Linked DNA regions of Homo sapiens. The protein of the gene in region 3 purifies or fractionates together with the protein of the main gene of each other region. This does not show direct contact. Each region holds a gene or a part of one and is shown on either strand. Other genes may lie near its edges.

Region 1 (3,655 bases), on a different chromosome or scaffold from region 3:
AGATCAAAAGATGAAACCATCTTTTACCTCAAGAATGTAGTTCCATCCCTTTTCATTAAAGACATCATCTTGGAAATGTTCTTTGTAGACATCTTTGGCTTCCTGGATTTTCTCTTTGGTTACTACTTTACCTAGAAGAATATACATGTCCTGTTTACATTTCTAAAGGTGCATTCTGTGAGTTGCTGAACTGTCACAGACTTAATATCTTTGGCTATTTCACCCATTCTATGGATTAAAAATATAACTAAGAGGTTAAATGCTCACCCAGAGTCAACAGCAGAGTCAGAAAAGGAATTTGTACTTTTAATAACTCAAAGTATAAATGTTTATTTATTGTAAAAGCAGATGTGTAATAGAAAAAATTATTACTTGCACAGCTTTTAAAAATGATATTAACTTAATTTTTTTCTCTCGATTAATTTTGGTACTTTTCAACTTTGAGATGACTCAAAAGCTTCTTACATCCAAATGAAACGTCTCACTTCGTTCGTAAAGAATGTGGCATCTTTAGGGTTGGTAAGTCAGTAATTTCCACAATTACTAAATGTCTGCCCCCCAAACAACACACTTTTAATTAACTTTTCTTATCCGTAAATGAGGATAAAAGTCGAGTACCCACTTATATGATGTTTGTGAGGACAAAATGAGTTAAGACATACGAACCACTTACAATAATGCTGGCCTAGAATAGGTAATCAATACATTTTAGTTATAATTAAAAATGAGTAATATTTTACAAAGTTCTTAAGTTGTATGACTAAATTAAAGTGTGCTATCAGTTGCTGGTAACTTAATACAAGATAACTAGTAAACTCGTTTAAAGTATCTTGGGGCCAGGCGTGGTGGCTCATGTCTGTAATCCCAGCATTTTGGGAGGCCAAGGCGGGCGGGTCGCTTGAGAGCTCAAAAGTTTGAGACCAGCCTGGTCAACATGGTGAGACCCTGTCACTATAAAAAAGTAGCCAGGCATGGTGGTGCGAGCCTGTGGTCCCAGTTACTTGAGAGGCTGAGCAGGAAGGATCTCTGGAGCCTGGGAGGCAGAGGTTGCAGTGAGCCAAGATTGCACCACTGCACTCCAGCCTGGGTGACTGAGTGAGACCCTGTCTAAAAACAAAACAAAACAAAAAAACTTTGGTATTAACTTTGGTATTCTTGCCACTAATAATTACTTCTGATATCTAGCTAGGTTTTCAGTAGTATAAGACTATCTGAACTGCCTAATCTTAAAAGAGTCAAGATTATAGAAAAGAGTTATTGGCCTAAAATTCACCTTACTGTTTTCAATTCTGAAATTGTTTAATTCAAAAGGTTAGAGATAAACTTTTCCAACATGTATAATGTGTTTGGGAACTGTTTTCCCCCTAGAAATGGCCTTTCAAATAAGAAAGCACAGAAATTGGGGGATTTTTGTTTTAATATGCATTTGCAACTAAGTCCAGAGACACAGGTAGTTTTTAAAAATAGGTCTTCAAGGTAAAACTGGCTAATATAAAAATATTCTGATTGCTACCATAATTCAAAAGGAGTTTCCAGTTCATTAACAACTCCTTTACTTTGAATTAATGACTAAAGTATAACAAACAAGATTAGCCTCCAAAAATTAATGACTTTTCTAAACTTATTTCAAAACTTTTAGTTCGGCCAGGAGTGGTGGCTCACGCCTGTAATCACAGCACTTTGGTGGGCCGAGACAGGTGGATCACCTGAGGTCGAGAGTTCAAGACCAGCCTGACCAACATGGAGAAAGCCCGTCTTCACTAAAAACACAAAATTAGTTGGGTGTGGTGGTGCATGCCTGTAATCCCATCTACTCGGGAGGCAGAGGCAGGAGAATTGCCTGAAACCAGGAGGCGGAGGTTGCGCTGAGTTGAGATCATGCCATTGCACTCCAGCCTGGCCAACAAGAGCGAAACTCGGTTTCCAAAAAAAAAAAAAAACCTTTTATTTCAGAAAACTTTTCTCATACTTAGAACATCAAACACACACCAAATTATATGATTTAATGCATCCAAATTAACAGATTTGTTAAAAATTCTAAAAGAACTCCTAAAGGAGTTAAGAGTAATAAGCAGTGTTTAAAATATACTAGGAAAAGTAATACCTTTTAAGTACTTATTAAGAATGTACTGCAACCCATAAAATACTGTTTCCTCATATTTCACCTTCCTTAATTTGGAGTTTTCTGTCTTCTTTTCACGGCATTCAAAGTAGGAATAAACTTTGCTTGTGTTGGGTGGATATTGTTTATAGTGAGTAACCTATGTAAAGAAATACACTTCTGTTAGAAAACACCGATGAGTAGACTATAAATCACAACAGAAAAGGCTTGAAGTTATTTCAAAACCAGAGAAACTATATTTCTTGTTTGCTATTAACCAGTTTCTTTTCCTGGCTATACCAAATAAAAAATAAGTATCTAAGATATTTTCAGAGTTCAGTATCTTAAAACCACAGGAGAGCGTTAAATTTTACATACAAGCACACTAAATCTACTACAAGGCCTCTAGGTTGGAAAAGTATTTCATTTGGTTTTGGGGAACAGTCCTTCATCCAGGCGAAGAGAGAGAGAAGCAGCTGCCTAATGGGCACACACAACAGAAAGGAATGAACTGAAAGACAGCAGAATTTGGTACTGCTAATATCTCAATGTGGTATGTTCCAAAAGTCAATGACTTAACATGACTACTTTACTTGTACAATGAGGTACTGAGGATGATCACTTTTAGCCTTCACAGTGACACTATGAAAACCTGGATGACAGCAACGGCGGTGGCAGCAAAGTAAAGCAGCAAAGTAAAAAAAAATCCTGTTTTGTAATCTCCCTTTGTCAAATCACCCACCTAACTGGAAAATAAATTCTTAAACATCAAATCCTTATGAGTTTAAAATACGAAGAGGTCTTCCTTAGCACAAATTTCTTTTCCATGAACTTGGGTAAGAGCCACCATGTAAAAAATTTATCTGCTTTTAAGAAAGAAAAAGTAAAAAGTGAGTGTTCATTATACTTTTAATATGGTTAAAACATGGAAATAAATTCAAACATTTTACCAATAAAAAATAAAGTGGAAGAATAATGTGTATCTGCCCAATTTCAAGAGTAGGAATAACAGTGCCTTGAGGTTTAAGATACAGGGTGAATCATGGCAATGGCGGAATAAATCTTTGCAGACCATTTTTCATGAGTGATCACTGTGAACATAAATCATTTTTCCTGTTTAGCTTTGATCTCAAGTTCAGGAAAGCCAATGCTGTCTTTGGGTACACAGTCTCAATCTCAGTAAAACTTGGCTCTATCCTCAAGAATCTTCATAGCTTAGTACAAGAATCCTAAGATGAATATATTTCCATTGATGATTCTGAATGAATGTGCTGTTTCCTTGCCAATGGTAGCATACTTGCAACTCTATAAAAATAGCCCCTAATGCAGCACACAGACAACCTTGGAGGTAAATCTTTATAGTAACAAGTGATCTGAGAGTTTAAGTCAAGCAGGAGACTTGGAGCTGTTTTCCTTAAGTACAACAGATAGTGATATACTAAAAGGTACAGGGAAGACTCATCAAAAGCTAGAAGTATATGTCAGGGCTTATTAAGGTTAGAATCCAGGGACTGATCCCACTTTAATAAAATTTAAGAAGTAGCTAAGCAAGAT
Region 2 (3,655 bases), on a different chromosome or scaffold from region 3:
GTAATCCTGATTGCTGTAGAGGACCCAGGGCAATCCTGGAGACCCCCTGGAACCACTACTAGGCAGAAAACTGGGAAGAGGATGGCAAAACTCTCCAGTTAGTGTAGCTGTCTCAGTGGAAGGACTGTTGTCCCCTGAGGCACGAGGAAGACAGCATGGAAGCACTGACAGTATGCGCTTGGCCTGGTTACTTTCTCTGAGCTTCATGTTCCTTAGCTGTAAAACAGGAGTGATAACCCCCATCTTGCAGAGGTTTTGTGAGGAATACATGAGATAATCCCTGCTGGTGCTCACTGAAAGTGAGTTTCATGTGCCCTGGGTGGGGAGGAGGGGAATTGTGAGGAAGGGAAGGTTTGGGTTGTGCATCAGATTATCTGATTCTCACAGCCTGGCACAGTCTACCACCTGCCTGCCCTCTACCATCTTACCTAAGTACCATTGCCTAAACTATTTTTGCTATAGTTACTCATTGAGCAGACTTATGAAATCTCCCCACAGCACAAAACTGAAGGTATCCACCTCCAGAGGTGAGATTCTCACCAAGACAGGCTGTGGGGAAGGTAGCTTTGAGCAGGTCTCTAGGGTCCCCTAGAAAGGTGCCTTTTCTCTGCTTGGCTGCTGCTTCTGAGGCCCTGGCTGCTGAGCCCACTTCCTGCCCATAAGGCTGCAGCCTTAGCCCTAGCCAATTGCTCCTAAATGGGGGAGGCAGCAGCCAGGGTGGGAACCATGGCCCCCGCCTTTAACTCACCCAGGGGACAGGTTAGTCAGATAGATGGTCCTTTGTTCGCCACCCTCCACCTCCCACATAGACAACATTCTAATGTGTTTGATGGACTGCATATAGTTTTGTTTCTACATGCACTTTCAAAACCTTTGTGTGCTTATATTTTATAATGGCATACCCAGTCCTGTTATTTAGCCCTTTCTGTTTCTTACTTTTGTCCTGAACTTATTGTTTTTATGATTTGTCCATGTTGCCCTAGATGCCCTTATACCTATACATCACTGTGAATTGTGCTCTGTGTATTTTACCCATCTCCACGTATTTTACCCATCTGCTCCCTGGCTGATGGGTTTGGAGATGGCGTCTAACACCCTGCCTCCACAAATAATGCTGCTCCAGATATCTTCCTGGATGGTCTCACCAGATGATTTCTACCCAGGAGCAGAATTGCTGGCCACAGGGCATACTTTGAGTACTACAAGACTGGTTTCCTCAATGACTGACATCCTCCATTCTCTTCCACCTACTCCCATCCCCAAACAGGACATGTAAATTTCTATATTTTACCTATATATCATGGCAGTATCCAGCTTTATTGTAGGTGTAAAATACACATTGCTGCTTTATCATGTACTTTTCTAATAACTAGTGAGTTTGGACATTTTTTGATATGTTTGTTAACTTTTTAAGCTTCCTCTTCTCTAATTGCTTATTCATATTCTTTGGTATTTTTTAAATTGGGTTAGCTTTATATTTTTTGACTTTCAGGAGTTATAGGTTTTGATCTGTGATCAATTTTAGACATTGCAAATATATTATGATGATATTAGGTCTATTAATTTTGTCCATGGTATCTTTCATTGAACAGAAATTCTTCATTTCTTGTAATTGAATTAATCTTTTTTTCCTTGTGGCTTGTGCTTTTGAAAGTTTGCCTAATAGTTTGCTAATTTAAAGCTTATCACCTTTAACACTCCTCACTGGAAATTCAGAGATCACCACGGTTCTCTCTGCCTTTTAAGAGATAAATCTACAATCTGTGGCTATGCAATTCACTTCTCAGCATCACCAGTTCCTCATCTATAAAATAGAAGTTTGAACCAGCTTACCTCTGAGGTCCCATACATATTTGAACAACTGGAGCCCTACAGTGAAATGTTTTGATTCAGTGAAGGGACAGGAGGATGGGGCAAAGGTGTAGAGGCAGGAATCTACACAATGGACCAGGTTGGACCAGAGTGAGGTAGCAGGAATCATGGCAGAAGAGGTTGTGTAAACTCTAAAGGCCACCTGAGAAGTTTGAGTTATGTTGCCATGGGCAGCCATGTGGTTTCTGCGTAGAAGACCACTGTGGTATAATAAAAAATAAATATTTGGTCCTTGTCCCCAGTACCTGTCACAGAGTTCCTAAAACCCTAGAAATTTCCTAAGTAATAGAAATGTCCTTTGTGATTCATAATAAACCCCATGATAATACCTGGGTTTATGCTCCTGCAGACTTAGGGTGAGATCCCTAGATAGCTTCAAGATGGAACCAGTCACCAGCAAGTCCAAGAGATTAGGGGATCAAAGAGTTGGAACTTTCGGTACCACCCACCAAAGTCCAGGAAAGGAGGGTGGGACTGGAGATTCAGCTCTACAAAAACTCTTGAACAAGATGTGAGGAGCTTTTTAGTTGCTGAGCATTTGGAGGTTCCTGGAGGGTGCACACCCAGGTAGGGCATGAAAGCTCCGCATTGCCCCCATATCTTGGCCTATCCATTCTTCACTTGGCTGTTCATCTATATCCTTTGTATAGCCTTTATAATAAACCAATGAGTGAGTTCTGTAAGCTGTCCTAGCAAGTTAATTGAAGCCAAGGAGGAAGTAATGGAAACCCCTGATTTATAGCCATTCAGCCAGAAGCACAACCTCAGGCTTGTGATCAGCCTGAAGTCAGGGCAGTCTTGTAGGATTGAGCCCTTAACCTATGGGATCTGACAATGTCTTGAGATAGTATCAGAATTGAATTCAATTATAGGACACTCAGTTTGTGTTTTCTGGAGTACTGTTTGGTGTCTGGGGGAAATCCCACACACATCTGGTCACAGAAGTATTCTGTGTTCAGTGTGACAGTAGAAAAAGCAGTTTGTGTGTATGTGTGTGTTTGTGCTTTTGTATGCTAATGAGATGATCTATGGCTGGGGGCCCTTAGATAGCTTCGGGAAGGGGGCTGGTCGCCAGAAAGACTAATTTATGACTAGAGGGTTAGAACTTTCAGCCCTACCTCTCCCACTTCTAGAGGGTAGATGGGCTACAGATTGAGTTCGGTCTCCAACAGCCAGTGAATTAATCAATCATGCCTTCACGATAAACCTTCATGAAGACCCCTAAACAACCAGATTCAGAGAGCTTCCAAGTTGGTGAACATATTGAGGTGCTGGGAAGGTGGTGCACATGGAGTGGGCATGGAAGCTTTGCCCATCCACTCCCATGCCTTGCCCTGTGCATCTCTTCACTTGCTTGTTCCCTAGTCGTATGCTTTATAATAAGCCAGTAAAGTGCTTTCCAAGTTCTGTGACTCGTTCTAGCCAATTATCAATCCCAAGGATAGGGTCATGGGAACCTCCAATTTATAACTAGTTGGTTGGGAATACAGGTGGCCCAGGACTCTCGACTGGTGTCTGAAGTGGGGGCAGTCTTGTGCATTTGAGCCTTCTCACTTGTGGGATCTGATGCTAAGTCCAGGTAGAGAATGTCAGAATGCATCTGAATTGTTGGACACCAAGTTGGTGTCCACACAGAATTGGGGAATTGGTTGATGTGAGGAAAAACCCTCCCAGCTACATAGGGAAATCACGGTTTTGGAAGATGAGCAGAAAAGGGTGGGAGGGAGAAGACAAGAGAGAAGAGGGTGAGGAAAGAGGCCAGGCAGCAGTCCAAGTGTGAGAT
Region 3 (3,459 bases):
TGGCCAACATGGTGAAACCTCATCTCTACTAAAAATAGAAAAATCAGCTGGGTGTAGTGGTGTACGCCTGTAATCTCAGCTACTCGGGAGGCTGAGGCAGAAGAATTGTTTGAACCCGGGAGGCGGAGGTTGTGGTGAGTTGAGATCACGCCACTGCACTCCAGCCTGAGTGACAAACCAAGACTCTGTCTTAAAAGAAAAAAAGAAAAAAGAAATTCAGAGCTCCGACTCTGAAGGAAGAATAAATATTTTTAAAGAAAGCCAACAATGACATGCCCTACTTACTGGGAGTGACAGATAAGGGAAAGAATTCCAGTGGTACAGGGAAAGCAGCAGCTGGATGCTCCGCAAACCAGCTCCCAATTTTCTGTCTCCCACCACACACTGATCAGATCCACTCTTGAAACTGGGGGGTGGGGCAGGGACATCCTTAAAGCAGAAGTCACAGCAGGAAACACAGCAGAGTCCACCACGCGGCAGACAATCAAGAAACGTCAGGGAATGAGGGGACACAGCATCCTGTGGTGAGGGCTTTGGGCTTGTTCCCTGAAGCTTTTTATTATAAAAACAAGATGAAACATAGATCACATTGCAGTCTCGATTGTAATGAACCTCAGCTGAATGTGCCGACAGCGGAGTATCTGATCTAATGTGGACTTTGAAGCATTTTGAAATGAAAAAATCTTGGGATGTTTTTGTTTTTAAAATTCCTGTGGTTGTTCGCTAAATGGCAAAATAGGGGGCCACCAGCCGGACAGCTCCAGACCACCTACAGAAAGAAAGTCTCAGGCCATTATGAAGGCCGAAACGCTAACAGCCATCTTCTTCTGGGTGCACAGCCCTGCGGCCATCCCCACCGTGAGATGGTAGAAAGGGCGCGTGCAAGGATCAGCACCCAGTGTAGAAACTGACTTGTACCCCGAAGGTATGCAATGCGATCCCAACAGGCTCATTCCAGATATAAAAAATATGTCATCACTTTCATTAGGTAATATTAAACCAACACTAAGAACTTCTGCAAGATCTTTTATATTACACAGTAGAGTTAAAAACTGTAGTAAATGTTCAGATATTTAAATGAGCACCAAACACTACAAAGTGCAACCAACATGGTTCTATTAAAAACTCTCTTTGACTATGGCATTCAAGGACAGCAATACAATCTTTTTTTTTTTAACAAAGCAACTAATATAAAAATCTGCAAATGCCATATATTCATATCTAGGCTATTCTTCTCATATAGGCATGTCATTAGATAGACTTTCTTTCTATTCTTTCCTGAGGTATTTTTTTGTGGTTTACTTTTATTGTACTGCTGGATGCATTATTTTTGATCATCCTTTCCTAAAATGATTTAAAGACCTGCAAATAATTTTATTGCATAGGACACTATTGATGACACATAGAATGGGAGCTGCAAGTATGTGGCATTGGAACAAGCCTTACAAATATTGCATTTTAAGAATACACACATTTTTTACAGTTTGTCTCTTTTAAAAAATTTGAAGTTATAGCTACGACTTAACTACGTACAGTGAAGCATTTTAGGAATGTTAAGTGATTAAAGAAGAAGATGAATGATACAAAGAAAAGAAGCCACCATTCTTGCCAGCTATATATTGTATTCCTTCAAAAGCAACTATACATGCTGCCTTCAGTTCATAGTTAAATATTTCTAGTAATCTGTTTTGGGAGAACAAATGTCTTTCAAGGTTTCAAGTTCCTCTATAAGCTTCTTGTTCTGGACTTCCAGCACTGCAACTCGGCTCTCCAGACATTTTACATATTCTTTCTTTCGACGTCGACATTCTTTGGCAGCTTCCCTGAAAAAAAGCAGAAGCAAAGGGCAAACAAAGCATTTTTTGCATGCTATTGACAAACAGATCAAAGTAAGCTCGGTAAGTGTGATCACGGCTGCATTCCACATCCTGGAACAACATTCCCAATTCAATTTCAAACACTAATCCAAACTGGATTCTTAAGGGTCACACGTGTCCTTCCCACAAGTCCACATGGCAATAAGTAGGACTGCTGCATCTCCTGCCTTGATTAGAGTAAACAAGGTCCAAGTCAAAGACAGTTACTCTACTTTATGGCAATAAAGATCTTTGAGGGCCTTGAGTTCCTCAATGAGAGTCTTGTTTTGGTTTTCAAGCACAGCCACACGATTTTCAAGACATTTGACATATTCTTTCTTCTTCCTGCGACACTCCCGGGCAGCTTCCCTGGAAGCAACACAAGGCAAATGACTACAGGAACAGCCTTCCAACACAATCCACAGTGGGTCAGTGCACTTCTGCCCCCCGAACTCAACAGCCAATCGATCCTAGGTAAGGACTGTACAAAGCCACATAACAAACATAACCAGGCACATGCTTTTTGTAAGATAACCATTAGACAACAGGAATGATTTGAGAACACAGTTCGCCCAGCATTCATCACAAATGGTGTTTTCTTAGGGCACACATTCCACTGGTAACAATGCCCACAACTGTTTTCAGTAAACTACAATAGGACCACATCCCCAAGTGGAATTTCTACAAACACATTTATAGATCCTTTCAATTCTCTTAATTATTTTTGTCTCCCAAAAGGCACATACTCCGACATAATGAGTTAATTTTATTCGATCAAAAATGATTATAAGAATTAATCCTCAAAAACCTTAAATATCAACACTGGAGATTTTTAGTCTTCAAAACTAAATCTCAGTAAAACAAGATCAATCATGACTGCAAGACACAGTTTATTGGCTAGAAAACACACATGGATAAATCATAACAATAAACAAAAGATGTGCATTTTTATAAACCGAAATGAAATGGACAGTGCTTCTGAAAATTAAAGAAGGGGGCTACAAAATACAACACTCAATAACTCAGACAATTTAAACCCACAAATGTGAGACCACCACAATTAAAATTATAAAAAAGAAGCTACTGAGTAACTCTGGGCATATTTCAAGACTGTTTCCTAATCACATGCATTTAATATCCAATATATTGAATTTTAAAGCACTATAAGCCCAAAATGAAAGAACAGACCAGTAGCCAAAGCAACAACACAAACAGATGAGTTGACTTAGTCATTTTCATACATAACCCCACCAAAACAATAAATAGAGCCAACATTTTCTCTTTTTCTTTTTTTCAGGGTGGGAGGGATGGCAACCACTTCCCTTAACTCCTATGTAGAAGACACCCTTTAATTGGCCTCATTTTGGAGGATTCAATTCCAGAATAACTGCCTTTGAGGTAGATCACCCTTCATGTCAAAAAAGCCTGCACTGAAACAGACACTATCATTCAAATATGTTAAAAAAAGCAGTGTTGAATGTCTAAACACCAGTTTCTGTAATGCCAGCTAGCATCCTGAACCACATGTGATGTATACATGATTTTTTTTTTTTTTTTAAGATAGCTGACTCTCACTGAGTGGATATCTGTGTTTTCACTATGG

Evidence for each region.
Region 1: the proteins of CREM (region 3) and NAMPT purify together in Homo sapiens (affinity purification with mass spectrometry, with the first as the bait; one study listed by BioGRID). This does not show direct contact.
Region 2: the proteins of CREM (region 3) and NT5E purify together in Homo sapiens (affinity purification with mass spectrometry, with the first as the bait; one study listed by BioGRID). This does not show direct contact.

The regions. Positions count from the first base shown.
Region 1 is NC_000007.14:106,274,919-106,278,573, forward strand, and holds part of NAMPT (nicotinamide phosphoribosyltransferase precursor), read right to left. Parts: intron 2,262-3,655; coding exon 2,105-2,261; intron 132-2,104; coding exon 28-131; intron 1-27.
Region 2 is NC_000006.12:85,453,053-85,456,707, forward strand, and holds part of NT5E (5'-nucleotidase isoform 1 preproprotein), read left to right. Parts: intron 1-3,655. UniProt on the Homo sapiens protein: Catalyzes the hydrolysis of nucleotide monophosphates, releasing inorganic phosphate and the corresponding nucleoside, with AMP being the preferred substrate. Shows a preference for ribonucleotide monophosphates over their equivalent deoxyribose forms.
Region 3 is NC_000010.11:35,210,020-35,213,478, reverse strand, and holds the end of CREM (cAMP-responsive element modulator), read right to left. Parts: exon of another isoform or gene 2,226-3,459; coding exon 2,081-2,225; 3' UTR 1,824-2,080; coding exon of another isoform or gene 1,676-1,823; 3' UTR 526-1,675; downstream 1-525.